Homo sapiens: one gene and its partner. The protein of the gene in region 1 interacts with the protein of each later gene in a biochemical or structural test. Each region holds a gene or a part of one and is shown in the gene's direction. Other genes may lie near its edges. The genes, in order: ZNF701 and ZER1.

What was found.
Region 2: the proteins of ZNF701 (region 1) and ZER1 are reported together in a solved structure, tested with the Homo sapiens proteins (2 studies listed by BioGRID, with this or other methods).

What each region holds. Positions count from the first base shown.
Region 1 is NC_000019.10:52,565,733-52,573,520, forward strand, and holds the start of ZNF701 (zinc finger protein 701), read left to right. Parts: upstream 1-4,554; 5' UTR 4,555-4,598; intron 4,599-4,931; exon of another isoform or gene 4,932-5,154; intron 5,155-6,504; exon of another isoform or gene 6,505-6,509; coding exon of another isoform or gene 6,510-6,636; intron 6,637-6,832; exon of another isoform or gene 6,833-6,946; intron 6,947-6,960; exon of another isoform or gene 6,961-7,478; intron 7,479-7,788. UniProt on the Homo sapiens protein: May be involved in transcriptional regulation.
Region 2 is NC_000009.12:128,747,803-128,755,069, reverse strand, and holds part of ZER1 (protein zer-1 homolog), read left to right. Parts: intron 1-1,110; coding exon 1,111-1,261; intron 1,262-1,469; coding exon 1,470-1,906; intron 1,907-2,220; coding exon 2,221-2,397; intron 2,398-3,542; coding exon 3,543-3,657; intron 3,658-3,801; coding exon 3,802-3,948; intron 3,949-4,280; coding exon 4,281-4,454; intron 4,455-5,608; exon of another isoform or gene 5,609-5,712; intron 5,713-7,267. UniProt on the Homo sapiens protein: Serves as substrate adapter subunit in the E3 ubiquitin ligase complex ZYG11B-CUL2-Elongin BC. Acts to target substrates bearing N-terminal degrons for proteasomal degradation with the first four residues of substrates being the key recognition elements.

The sequences.
Region 1 (7,788 bases):
AAACAATGTGATCATTTGTTATCTCCCTGTGACCTGGAAGCCCGCAATTCCAGTTATTTCACCTTCCCAGATCGAACCAAGGTGTATCTTATATGTATTGATTGATGTCTCATGTCACCCTAAATTTGTAAATTGCAGCCTGAACATCTTGGGCACACGTCATCAGGACCTCCTGAGGCTGTGTCATGGGTGCATTTTAACCTTGGCAAAATAGATTTCTAAATTCATTGAGACCTAGTAGATACTTTTGGATCACAAGCTCATGAACACAGAAAAGATCAAGATAGAATAAGGAAAAAATGAGTATAATGGAAAGCACAAATCAGTTCCAAAATCTCAACTCCTTCATATTTATTCACCATAGGGAAATGCTTTACAACTTTGTGGGATTAGAGTCCATTTGTGAAAGATTTTATATATATATATATAGTTTGTTTTGTTTTGTTTTTTGAGACGGAGTTTCAATCTTGTTGCCCAGGCTGGAGTGCAATGGTGCGATCTCGGATCACTGAAACCTCTGCCTCCCAGGTACTACGGATTCTCCTGTCTCAGCACCCCAAGTAGCTCAGATTACAGGCATGCATCACCATGCCCGGCTAATTCTTTTGTATTTAGTAGAGACTGGGTTTCATTATGTTAGTCAGGCTGGTCTTGAATTCCTGACCTCAGGTGATCCACCTGCCTCAGCCTCCCAAAGTGCTGAGATTACAGGTATGCGCCACTATGCTGGGCCAAAAGATATATTTCTAGTATTAGATTGAAATAAAAACCCATTCTATATAACTTTAGCTAATTTAAAACGCAAATAATAGATAATTACATAGATACACAAAACTTTATAATATTTCACTTAGTATTGCTATTACTATGTTCTTGGGGCAGAAGCTCAGTCTGTCAGATACATTACAAAAGGATGGTGTCTCCATAATTGTGCTTAGGACTCTGGTGCATAAGTGGATAAACTGTTAAACAGGATCCTAGGGGAGCTAGGGTGACAAAGTTCAAGTCCATTAAAACTAGCAACATACATTCCTTACTGCTCACGCATGACTCATGGTCTTAAGATGTTTACAGTTAAGAAAAGCAGCTTAATCATACCTGCAAGGACAAACTCCTACATAAACACAATGTCCAGATGACCCAATATCCCATGACAATGTATGCTTCTAAGCTAATTACAGTCATGCTTTCACGTACTTGCACACTAAAATACCAAGGATAGGTGTTTTTTTTTTTTTGATGGAGCTTCACTTTTGTCATCCAGGCTGGAGTGCAATAGGACAATCTCGGCTCATTGCAACTTCCACCTTCCGGGTTCAAGCGATTCTCCTGCCTCAGCCTCCTGAGTAGCTAGGATTACAGGCATGCACCACCACCCCCGGCTAATCGTTGAATTTTCAGTAGAGACGGGGTTTCATCACGTTCGCAAGGCTGGTCTCGAACCCCTGATCTCAGGTGATGCCCCCACGTCGGCCTTCCAAAGTGCCAGAATTACAGGCGGGAGCCAATGCAACCGGCCAAGGATAGCTTTAAATCAACAAAGTAATAAGTTTTGTTACACTGTCAGCCCACTGGCAGGTAGACATACCTTAGTTTTTACCTAAGCACCTATGTAAGAGAAACTTTAAGAGAAGGCAGTTCCCTTTGTTTTTGAGGTCGCCCTACTGTGTAACTGGTAGTTTTCTTTTTTTTTTCTTTTTTTTTTTAAGACGGAGTCTCGCTCAGGCTTGAGACACCTTGTCCAGCTGTATTTTTTATTATTATTATTATTATTATTATTATTATTATTATTATTATTATTTTGTTTTTGAGACTGAGTTTCACTCTAGTTCCCTGGGCTGGAGTACAATGTCATGATCATGGCTCACCACAGCTTCCATTTTCTGGGCTCAAGCGATTCTCCTGCCTCAGCCTCCGGAGTAGCTGGGACTACAGGCTCATGCCACCACTCCAGGCTAATTTTTATATTTGTAGTAGAGACGGGGTTTCTCTATATTGGTCAGGCTGGTCTCGAACTCCCGACCTCAGGCCATCCGCCGTCCTCAGCCTACCAAAGGGCTGGGATTACAGGCTTGAGCCACCGCGCCCGGCCTGAAGTAGAATATTTTAGAAAGTAATTAAACCTTTTTTCAGCATAATAACCCAGAGATGTACTTCTGAAGGACTTAGAATCTCTTCTTGAAAGGCAAGCAACAAGGGAGATAGTACCTGTAAGTCAGTAGGAAATTAAATATTTCAAACATCAGCTATTTCAAATTTAAAGCTACAGACTTTTAAATAATTCGGAACCTTGAGAGGAACGTGGTCATGCAACCTGAGTCCGGTGGCATGCAGGCGCAACTTCTACAAGTTTTCCTGGCCAGGCATGCAGGCTCAGGCCTGTAATCCCAGCACTCTGGGAGGCTGAGGCGGGCGGATCGCCTGACGTCAGGAATTAGAAACCAGCCTGGCCAACATGGGGAAACCCCGTCTCTACTGAAAATACAAAGCCATTAGCCGGGCATGGTGGCGCACGCCTGTATTTTCAGCTATTTGGGAGGCTGAGGCAGGAGAACTGCTTGAACCCAGGACGTGGAGGTCGTAGTGAGCCGAGATCACATCACTGCATTCCAGCCTGGGCGACAGAGCAGGACGCCTTCCCAAAACAAAACAAAACAAAACAAAATGTGCTATACAATTTAGTTTCCTAATATCAATTTTAAAAAGTTTTCGTGTAAATAATTAGGAAAACTAAGCAGCCCCAGAGATAAGACCTCCTGGCATCATTGTCCCTTCTTATGGAGTGATAATGTAACCTTCCTTGAAGTGTATCACTCCATCACCAGTCAAGCTGCCGCAGCCTATGCACTGGACTTGAATGGAAAATGTGGTGGTTCTGGGAAAGCTTCTCTGTATTTCCTTGTGTGTGTGAAATGTTAATGTCTCTACTTGGGAACGCTGACCCCATTCATTTGGAGTTGAGGTTTCCAGGTGGCTATTCTCATGCTTTGTGTCCAAATAAACTCTATAATTAATAATGTATTCTAAATTTCATTATTTACTGCTGACATCAGTTTCTGTTGGATTGTAGGAGCCTCACCAGAGAGGGCACCTGTCCGCCATGCTGTAAAACTCACACTTGCCAAAAATACATGGGTTAGGGTTTCTCCCCCTCCCTCAGGATGATGCTAGTTAGCTGACACAGATGGTCACCTCCATTACCAAGTAGAGCCAGGATGAATTATGTGTGACCAAGGGTGTTGTCAAGTCCTCTTCCCTGAGGACTGATCAGTGTTTATCTTGAAAACATGTATTTGGGTTGTATAGAACAGTGAAGTTTCTTTCTCTCTTTTCAACCTCTCAACTGTCCTCTATTTCCCATCACATGCTGGTCTAAGGCCTATTTATTAATAAAATAGTTTTTATTTCTTTCTCTGTTATCGTCGTGAAGATGATTTCTCATTTAGGGGAAGATTTTTTTAGTTTTCAATTGTATTTTCTCAACATTTAAGAGCGAAGTGAAGAGTATTTCTTGGGCCAGGCACAGTGGTTCACGCCTGTAATCCCAGCATTTCAGGAGGCCGAGGCAGGCGGATCACTTGAAGTCAGGAGTTCGAGACCAGCCTGGCCAACATGGTGAAACCCCGTCTCTACCCAAAATACAAAAATTAGCCGGGCATGGTGGCCTGTGCCTGTAATGCCAGCTATTCCGGAGGCTGAGGCAGGAGAATCGCTTCAACCCAGGAGGCAGAGGCTGCAGTGAGCCGAGATGTCACCACTGCACTCCAGCCTGAGCGACAGAGAAATACTCCGTCTTAAAAAAAAAAAGAAAAGAAAAAAAAGAAAGTAATAGATCTCTTCCACAAATGTGCTGGGACAATTAACTGGATATCCACATGGAAAAGAATAATGTTGTATCCCTATCTCACACAATCAAAATTTTATTTTAAAAATTAAAAGAGACGATGAGGGGAGCCCTGCGGGAGGGTGTGTTACTTTGTCGCCCAGGCTGGCCTGGACCCCCAGGCTCAGTGATCCTCCCGCCTCTGGCCCTCAGGCTCCCGCCCACCTGGCCGCATTCCTGCTATGTTTAAGCAGTAGGTGGTGACTTCACTCCTCCCTGGCCTGAACACTCCGTCGCGCATCCCAGGCGGAGGCCCTAGGGAAGTCTCTGAAGCTGAGCACAGGGTGGACTCTCCCTCCTGAGTGAATGGAGAATAGAAAGGGAGAGGATTTCTGTTCTGTTCTGTGGGCCGTCAGCATGAAATTGTACGTTCCGCCCAGGCAGGGCTTTGCATTTTACATTCTTGTTTGCATCCCCGTTCCAGACAATTCCAGGGCTTTCGAATCGTGCTTCAGCCTTCCTGACCGCTCTCGCCTCCAAAGCCCGAAAAATAGAGTCGCTGGGAGCGAGGCTGAGAGACGCACAGGTCCCGCCCCGGCCCCGCCCTCTGCCGGTTCTAAAGGGCAAGGTCTCTCCGCCTGGGGCCCCGCCTCTACCTCGATCAGGCCCCGCCCACCTTCTCGTTGGCTCCACCCAGGCCTGGCTTTAGTCCTGTGCGCACACATCCGCGCAGACCAGGAAGCGGATCCCGTGGAGTGAAGGTCGCACCGCGGCGGTGAGTTTTGCTCTGTGTTGTATTAAGTCTGCACTCCCCATATCCCCGGCACTTCCGTACCTGGGACGTGGGGTCACCACAGACCTGTAAATTCTCGCCCATCTTCCTTCAACCAGAGCAAATGCAGACGTTCCCCTGGGAATCCGGAAGTCGCTTCCTTTTGTGTTTAAAGTCGCCCTGAGGCTGTTCCCGTCTCCAGTCTTTCTGCTACAGGGCGCTGTATACACTTCCTATCGCGTAGTTTCTGTGCTCAAAACCGTTTTTTAACTCCTCCCTCCCCGCGCTTTTCAAAGTCCTCACCCGAGATGTGTATTTCCGCCTGGGCGCCTCCCAGTCTCAACCTTTAGGCGCCTGAAGCGCAAACGTCGCGATCCCAGTCTCAGGGAGGCCGAGTTCTCTGCCTGGTGCTGGGATCTTGTGGACCCCACCGAAGGCGTCGTCGCACCCCACCTCCCGCCTCATGCTGGGCCTTGCTGCACCCCAAGTCTCCCCTTAGCAGTCACCACTTTCCTTGAGCCAGCGTTGGGGAGGTGCCAGGGGCCAGTCCTGTGACACGGTGTGTTCTTGCCTGCCTAGCTCCAACCCCTGAAAAATGAGCCTCTCTGGGATGCAGGCGTCTTACTTCAAACCCTCCTGTGATTGTGTGGGCTAAAGAGATCAGGAGACAGAGAGTAGTAGAAAACCTGAGACAGAGAAAAGAAGAATGAGAAAGACCCATAACAGATGGCAAAGTAGAGGATGGGTGAGGGATTTGCCAAGAGACAGCAAAAGTGAAAAAAAAAAGATAAGAAAGCAGGAGGAGAAAAGCAACTGGAGAAATGTAGAGAAAAGCTAGATGTACAGAGAGATGAAGGACAGACAGCAAGGTAGAGAGGGGCAGCAAAGAGGGAGGCTCATCAGAGTGAGAGAGAGAGAGAGAGAGAGGAGGAATTTGGAGCCAGGGCAGACAGAGCAGAGTGGTGCTGGTGGCAAGGAGAACAGAGGGAGAACCACAGCAGGGAGGACGCCTGGGGATCTGGGGTGCTAGAGAGTGGGGACGGGGGGTAAAACAGAGAAGAGAGAATTTAACAGGGAGAGCGGCAGAGATGCAGAGATGGGATAAGAGGCGGAAATATATGGAGATTGAGGACGATCGAAGAATTGGGGAGAAGGAGCAACAAGAGATTAAATAAGACGTGAGGATGGAGCCCAGGTAATTTTTGTATTTTTAGTAGAGACGGGGTTTCACCATGTTGGCCAGGCTGGTCTCGAACTCCTGACCTCAGGTGATCCACCCGCCTCGACCTCCCAAAGTGTTGGAATTACAGGCGTGAGCCACCGCACCTGGCCACCCAAGCATTCTTGATTGAAAAAGTTTGCTTATGTCTTAGTTCTACAGCTGACCCTCTTTCCCTGCTTTTTGTTTGTTTGTTTGCTTGTTTGTTTTGAGATGCACTTTCGCTCTTGTTGCCCAGGCTGGAGTGCAATGGTGTGATCTTGGGTCACCGCAACCCTTTTTGGTTTTTTTTTTGAGACGGAGTTTCGCTCTTGTTGCCCGTGCTGGAGTGCAATGGTGCGATCTCGGCTCACTGCAACCTCCACCTCCCGAGTTCAAGCGAGTCTCCTGCCTCAGCCTCCCTAGTAGCTGGGATTACAGGCATGTGCCACCACACCAGGCTAATTTTGTATTTTTAGTAGAGATGGGGTTTCTCCATATTGGTCAGGTTGGTCTTGAACTCCTGACCTCAGGTGATCTGCCCACCTCGGCTTCCCAAAGTGCTGGGATTATAGGCATGAGCCACCGAGCCCGGCCTACTCACCACCACCTTTACCTCCCGGTTTTAAGCGATTGTCCTGCCTCGGCCTTCCTGAGTAGCTGGAATTACAGGCAAGTGCCACAACATCTAGATAATTTTTGTATTTTTAGTAGAGATGGGGTTTCTCCATGTTGGTCAGGATGGTCTCGAACTCCCGACATCAGGTGATCCGCCTGCCTCGGCCTCCCAAAGTGCTGGGATTACAGGTGTGAGCCACCGCACTCAGCCTCCCTGTTTTGAAGGTAACTAGCTGTGTCTTTGTACATCTGCATTTTATAAATGTTACTGTAATTTTCTTGTGAGGAAGAATTAAATGTTGGGAATCAGTGGCATCAGAACTTGCAAAGGAAGTTTCTTTATCCCAGGTATGTGAAAGAGGCTTCTCTAATTTTCAAGGATAGTTTTGATAAGGCCAACCCTTTCCTTTATCCCTTCCAGGCCACCATGTAAGAATTCCGTTACATCTTTTCACTCATCTCAGACCTTCTCAGCGTGACTCGGTGAAAATGTCCCCGTTCTGAGGATGTCACAGCTAAATCTAAAGCAGATCATGTCAGTCCCTGGCAGGGAACCCTCCATGGGCTTCCTGTGTTCCCCAGGACAAAAGCCCAACTCCTCACTGTCACTCCACAGCCCTGTGTCCAGGGCCCCTGCCACTGTCCAGGCTCCTCCTGGGAACTTGCCCTCATCTCATGACTCCCTCTGCCCCAGTCACATTTGCTTTTCTCTTTTCCCAAACATCAAAACCCTTCCCGTCTCAGGTCATTTTCACTGCTCTTACCCTATTTCTCTAAATGCTCACAGCACTGTCCCTTTCTCCTTCAGGTCCTGGCTCAGAAATGTCTCCCATGCCCTCCCACCCCCAACTGAATTTCCCTCTGCCCATCAGTCTCTATCACATTACTCAGGTTTTATTATCTCTGTGTCAGTCACATCAGAAACACACTTTTTTTCTTTTTCCAAAGAGTCTCGCTCTGTCCTCCAGGCTGTGAGTGCAGTCTTGTGATCTTGGCTCACTGCAACCTTTGTCTCCTGAGTTCAAGCAATTCTTGTGCCTTAGTCTCCCAAGTAGCTGAGATTACAGGTGTGTGCCACCATACTCTGCTAATTTTTGTATTTGTATTTTATTTTATTTTTGAGTCTTACTCTGTTGCCCTGGCTGGAGTCCAGTGGTGCGATCTTGGCTCACTGCAACCTCCACCTTCCAGGTTCAAGCGATCCTCCAACCTCAGCCTCCCGAGTAGCTGGGCTTACCAATGCCCACCAAGCCCAGCTACTTTTTGTATTTTTAGTAGATATGGGGTTTCACCATGTTGGCCAGGCTGCTGTTGAACTCCTGAACTTGAGTAATCCTCCCACCTCAGCCTTCCAGAGTGCTAGTATTACAGGCATGA
Region 2 (7,267 bases), on another chromosome or scaffold:
AAGGAATTAAGTGTTGCCCCACACGTGTATGTACATTCACATGCACATACCTGTGCTTGTGAATTCAGTGAGCATGGCCACATATGCATGTACATGCCGGTGCCAGAATAACGGATCCATGATCAGGGAGTGAATCATCCAGAAAATCTGAATGGCCCTCCGAGGGCCTCCCCACTCCTAGGGGCTCCTAGAAGCATGCTATGCAGTCACTGAATGCTGGGAGTTCAATCTACAGGCCCAGATGGTGGCCAGGCATGGTGGCTCACACGTGTAATTCCAGCATTTTGGGAAGCCAAGACAGGAGGATCACTTGAGACCAGAAATTCAAGATCAGCCTGGGTGACATAGCGAGACCTTGTCTCTACCAAAAAAAAAAAAAGAAAAAGATTCCCAGAAGGGAAATTATTAGACAGCTGCATAGGAAACTAGAAGCCTGTGTGGGCCTGAGGACAGAGGTGGACCTGTAATAACGTCCTGAGCATTTACCGTGGGTCAGGCTTTAGGTTGGACACTTTGCAGGCCATAGTTATATCCACTTTACAGATGAAGAAACTGAGGTCTGGGAAAGTTCATTTACTTGTGTGAAGTTGCCCAGGTAGGAAGCAGCCAAGCCAAGATTTAGAGTCTAAAGCGTTTGAATCCAAAGCATTTCCCAGCAGACCAGGATTCTTGCATGAGCTGATGTCTCAACAGGGCTTCATTAAGGGCTTGTCCTGTACCCAGCTGGGAACTCTGAACTACTTGGCTTAGTTTGCCTGTTTAAAAGGGTCGCAGGAGGGGCTTAAAGAAGGTGACGAGAGTGGCCATGCCAGTGGGGCTGCTGCCCCTGCAGTGTGCGTGCGTGGAGGCTGTGTGACAGGCATGTGCACTGGGAGAGATGGCGCCTGCATCACCTAGAAGGTCTCCCAGAGAGCTGCCTTTAGATTCCTGGTTCCTGGGCACCCTTAATCTTACTGGTAGTTTAGTCAGGATCTGACCAGATACTCTTAGGAGAAGGAGGTTGCTACTTGGGGTGATCCAAGAAAGCTTCAGGGGGAGGAGGGCTTGGCTTTGAAGCGAGGATGAGAGTCCCTGTGGCCCTCTCCTGAGCCAGGCTTTTTTCTCTCCCAGGTATGTGGAGCTGGTGAACGCTGCCTGTAACTTCGAGCCACACGAGAGCTTCTTCAGCCTCTTTTCGGACCCCCGCAGCACCCGCCTCACGCGGATCCACCTCCGTGAGGACCTGGTGCAGGACCAGGACCTGGAGGCCATCCGCAAGCAGGTGAGACCTGCCCCGCCACAGCGCCAGGAGGGCCCACACCAAGCAGGGGCCAGGCTGCTCGCCTCCAGCCCAGCCATCCCCAGCCCAGCCAGTGTGCACCGTGACTGTGCACATCCCCCTTTCCAACCCACCTGTAGCCCAGGGCAAGGCCTGGGGCCGGGGGAAGGGGCAAGGGTGGTGATGATGATGGAGCTGTGCCCACTCCCAGGACCTGGTGGAGCTGTACCTGACTAACTGCGAGAAGCTGTCCGCCAAGAGCCTGCAGACACTGAGGAGCTTCAGCCACACCCTGGTGTCCTTGAGCCTCTTCGGCTGTACAAACATTTTCTATGAGGAGGAGAACCCAGGGGGCTGTGAAGATGAGTACCTCGTCAACCCCACCTGCCAGGTGCTGGTTAAGGATTTCACCTTCGAGGGCTTCAGCCGCCTCCGCTTCCTCAACTTGGGCCGCATGATTGATTGGGTCCCTGTGGAGTCCCTGCTGCGGCCGCTTAACTCCCTGGCTGCCTTGGACCTCTCAGGCATTCAGACGAGCGACGCCGCCTTCCTCACCCAGTGGAAAGACAGCCTGGTGTCCCTCGTCCTCTACAACATGGACCTGTCCGACGACCACATCCGGGTCATCGTGCAGCTGCACAAGCTGCGGTGAGCTCCTGGCCCAGAGCTCACCAGGGTGGGGTTTGGGGGGCAGGTGGGGAGGAGTAGAGGTGGGTGTTGTCACGCCCTCAGGGTTCAGGAGCGCTTGGCTAGGCAGAGGGTGGGGATGAAGACACAGTCCCATTCCTTAAACCCAGTGTTTCAGCTGGATTGGGGCTGTTTGGGGTTTCTTCCCAGAATGCCCTGGGGAAGTTGTGGCAGGAATGGGCCCTCCCCTGCTACAGACTAAAGGAGCTGGGATCTGCAAGGCAGCCCCACCCTGTACCCAGCTCCTAACCTGCACCCCCTACCCCAATCTTCAGACACCTGGACATCTCCCGAGACCGCCTCTCCAGCTACTACAAGTTCAAGCTGACTCGGGAGGTGCTGAGCCTCTTTGTGCAGAAGCTGGGGAACCTAATGTCCCTGGACATCTCTGGCCACATGATCCTAGAGAACTGCAGCATCTCCAAGATGGAAGAGGAAGCGGGGCAGACCAGGTGGGGCCCCAGCCTCCATGGCTACTGGTAGGGTGTCATTCAACAGGCATTTAGGCTGGCGCAGTGGCTCACGCCTGTAATCCCAGCACTTTGGGAAGCCAAGATGGGCGGATCACTTGAGGCCAGGAGTTAGAGACCAGCCTGGCCAACATGGTGAAACCCCATTTCTACTAAAAATACAAAATTTAGCTGGACATGGTGGCAGACACCTGTAGTCCCAGCTACTTGGGAGGCTAAGGTATGAGAATTGAAGCCGGGAGGCGGAGCCTGCAGTGAGCTGAGATCGCGCCACTGCACTCCAGCCTAGGCAACAAAGTGGGACTTTGTCTCAAAAAAAAAAAAAAAGAAAGTATTTGCCAAGTACCCCTCTGCCAAGTGCTGTGCTGGGTGCTAGAGATAAAGAAACAAATCAGGTCCTGCCCTCTTGGAGGCTGTGTGAGCTGGTGGGGACAATCAAGTCATTACAAGGGCTATGGTAGGGGCAATCCAGGGCCCCGGTGTGGCCTGAGGATCAGGAAGGAAGGAGGAGGAGGGACGCATCCTGGCTGTCCTGAAAGCTCATTCTGCCTCTGCCAGAGGAAGCGTGTTCTAGCAGAGGGAACAGCACCTGCAAAGGCCAGTAGGTGAGAGCATGAGGAGCGACAGGGGAACTACCCAACACTCAGCCTGACCAGAGCACAGTGCCATGGGGGGAAGAGGCAAGGCTGGCAGTGTCTGCCACCTATGGAGTATTGCTGGACATAGGTCGGTTCTTGGATTGGTTGGTTGAGAAGTTTGACCAAACCCTACCAGCTGTAACTGGCCACCCATAAGCCCTGGCCCCAGCCTGCTTTAATGGTGTTCAGTTGAGCTTGTCCCTTTGTGATTGTTGGTGAGACCTAAAGGTGCCATGTCCTTACTAGAATGGCAGGTGGTTTCTAAAGGTGGCTGCATTGCCCATCCTATGTGTTCCCCTACTATGTGGCTTTGCCATGCTTCCATCAGGAGGTGGTGCTTATGTCCCCTACCATTAAAAACAAAAGGAGTAGGGGATGAGGTTGGAGGGCCTAGAAGAGAAAGCAAGGAAATGCCTCACCACCCCCAGTGGGGAGGCCCAGCTCAGGCCTGGGTCCCAAGCCACTGACACCGGCACCCTCTTTCCCCAGCATTGAGCCTTCCAAGAGCAGCATCATACCTTTCCGGGCTCTGAAGAGGCCGCTGCAGTTCCTCGGGCTCTTTGAGAACTCTCTGTGCCGCCTCACGCACATTCCAGCCTACAAAGTGAGCAGTGGAAGTGGGATGGGTCTGGGCCAGGGAGCCTTGGGAGAGAGAAGGAGCTGGATTCTGGGGCTGGAGACTGAGCTGGGATCTGGCATCCCAGCCCTTGGCCTCTGCTGGGTTGTTCTGAGCGTGTCCCACCCGCAGGTAAGTGGTGACAAAAACGAAGAGCAGGTGCTGAATGCCATCGAGGCCTACACGGAGCACCGGCCTGAGATCACCTCGCGGGCCATCAACTTGCTTTTTGACATCGCCCGCATCGAGCGTTGCAACCAGCTGCTGCGGGCCCTGAAGGTCAGCTCCAAGCCTGGGGCCTTGGCCTCCTGTCCCTCCCCACCTGGAGGTTGCCGGGCTTGGCTGAGCCGTGTCCCCAGAGCCTGTGTCCTTCTGCACCCTGTCCCCAGGGCCCCAGGACCCGAACCCCAGCCTGGGCCTCACAGCACTTGACTTGCTTCAGCACTGGCCTTGTTTGGTCCCCACCCTGGTGTCTGCTCCCCAGGCCCCACTTCTGCCTTTAGAGAGCAAGACCAGGCTAAACCTTGCCCCAGAGAGCCTGTTCCAGCCCCTTGCAGAGCCCAGGCCTCTCCCTGCACTTGCCAGCCCAGGTCCCCCTTGTCTTCATACAGCTGGTCATCACGGCCCTCAAGTGCCACAAATATGACAGGAACATTCAAGTGACAGGCAGCGCCGCTCTCTTCTACCTAACAAATTCCGAGTACCGCTCAGAGCAGAGTGTGAAGCTGCGCCGGCAGGTTATCCAGGTGGTGCTGAATGGCATGGAATCCTACCAGGAGGTGACGGTGAGCCCCCACCCGCCACGGCCCCGCATGCTCTGGCCCAGCCACCCCTTTCCTGCTTCTTGCGTCCCGCTAGGGCTCCCCCGGCTCTGGGCTGCATCTGTCCCAGCTCCCTTTCCCACAGCAGCACTCCCTGACTCTTGGGACCTGGCCCTTCCCACAGTCCATCACTCCTGGCTGCCCTCCATCCTCCTCCCTGCCCCATGTGGGGGTGGGGGCCCAGGGACCCTGCCCTTCTCCCTGCCTGTGCCGTCTCCTCAGCCCTTCTGCCCATACACTCTGCTGGGGGATTTCTTACCAACAGCTGCTTTTAATATAAAAGTAATAAAAGCCTTTATTATAGAAAAGTTATAATTACAGATATACAGAAAATAAAAATCACCCATAAACCCACTACCCAGAGACAGGCACCATTAACATGGGATATCAATTGTGAATTTTAGCCTATGCACACATATTTTGTAAATGGGATACACAAACTGCATACTGTTTGTATATGGTGGATTTTTACTTCAACTGTGTTGTCACATGAATATGAACATCTCCCTTATCCGCCAACAATTTTTTTCTTTTTTGAGATGGAGTTTCACTCTTATTGCCCAGGCTGGAGTGCAATGGCACAATCTCGGGTCACTGCAACTTCCACCTCCCGGGTTCAAGTGATTCTCCTGTCTCAGCCTCCCGAGTAGCTGGGATTACAGGCATGCGCCACCATGCCCGGCTAATTTTGTATTTTTAGTAAAGATGGGATTTTACCATATTGGTCAGGCTGGTCTCGAACTCCTGACCTCAGGTGATCCACCTGCCTCAGCCTCCCAAAGTGCTGGGATTACAGATGTGAGCCACTGCGCCTGGCCAGCCAACAAATTTTTTTTTCAGATGGAGTCTTGCTCTGTTGCCCAAGCTGGAGAGCAGTGGCGGGTTCAAGTGATTCTCCTGCCTCAGCCTCCCAAGTAGCTGGGACTACAGGTGCATGCCACCACACCTGCCTAATTTATGTATTTTTAGTAGAGACGGGGTTTTGCCATGTTGGTCAGTCTGGTGTTGAACTCCTGACCTCAGGTGATCCACCTGCCTCAGCCTCCCAAAGTGCTGGGATTACAAGCATGTGCCACCACACCCAGCCAACATATTTATATAACAAAAACTTTTTTTCATTTCAGATGGGCAATATGCCAACGTCCTAACATGGTTTGAGGGAGGCACATTTCACACATGAGCATGAAGACCTAATCATCACTCTTATAAACTACGAAAGGATCAAACAATAATTTTTATTTATTTATTTTTTCGAGATGGAGTCTTACTCTGTCGCCCAGGCTGGAGTGCAGTGCACAATCTTGGCTCACTGCAATCTCTGCCTCCTGAGTTCAAGTGATCCTCCTGCCTCAGCCCCCCTAGTGGCTGGGACTACAGGCACGTGCCACCATGCCAGGCTAATATTTGTATTTTTAGTAGAGACAGGGTTTCGCCATGTTGGCCAGGCTGGTCTCGAACTCCTGAGCTCAGGTGATCCACCTGCCTCGGCCTCCCAAAGTGCTGGGATTACAGGCGTGAGCCACCGTGCTCAGCCACAATATATATATATATATTTTAATTAAGACAGGGTCTCAGGCTGGGCGTGGTGGCTCACGCCTGTAATCCCAGCACTTTGGGAGGCTGAGGCAGGCAGATCATGAGGTCAGGAGTTTGAGACCAGCCTGGCCAACATGGCGAAACCCCATCTCTACTAAAAAATACAAAAATTAGCTGGCCACGGTGGCTCACACCTGTAATCCCAGCACTTTGGGAGGCTGAGGCAGGCGGATCACCTGAAGTCAGGAGTTCGAGACCAGCCTGGCCAACGTGGTGAAACCCTGTCTCTACTAAAAATACACAAATTAGCTGGGCATGGTGGCAGGCGCCTGTAGTCCCAGCTACCTGGGAGGCTGAGGCAGGAGAATTGCTGGAACCCAGGAGGTAGAGGTTGCAGTGAGCTGAGATCAAGCCACCGAACTCCAGCCTGGGTGACAGAGGGAGACTCTGTCACAAAGAAAAACAAAAACAAATACACAGGGTCTCACTTTGTTGCCAAGGCTGGAGTATAGCGGCATGATCACAGCTCACTGTGGCCTCCACCTCTCAGGCTCAAGCAAGCCTCCCAACTCAGCCTCCCCAGTAGCTGGGACAACAAGGCATGTACCACCACACCCAACTAATTTTTTTTTTTTTTTTTTTGAGACAGAGTCTCGCTCTGTCACCCAGGCTGGAGTTAAGTGGCACGATCTCGGCTCACTGCAAGCTCCACCTCCCAGGTTCACGCTATTCTGCCTCAGCCTCCCGAGTAGCTGGGACTACAGGCGCCCGCCACCCTGCCACGCTAAGTTTTTGTATTTTTAGTGGAGACGGGGTTTCACTGTGTTAGCCAGGATGGTCTCAATCTCCTGACCTCATGATCCGCCTGCGTCGGCCTCCCAAAGTGCTGGGATTATAGGCATGAGCCACCATGCCCGGCCCACAGTCAGCTAATTTGTATTTGTGTGTGTCTGTGTGTATGTGGTGACGGGGTCTCGCTGTGTTGCCCTTGCTATCCCCTAGCTCAAGTGATCCTCCTGCCTTGGTTTCCCAAAGTGCTGGGATTATAAGCATGAGCCATTGCACTAGGCCCAAAAATTGTTTAATAATGTTTCTTTTCTGATTACAAAAGATATCTAATGCTTAAGCCAGGTGTGGTGGCCCTCACCTGTAATCTCAGCACTTTGGAGGGCCGAGGAAGGCAGATCACTTAAGATCAGGAGTTCCAGACCAGCCTGGCCAACATGGTGAAACCCTATCTC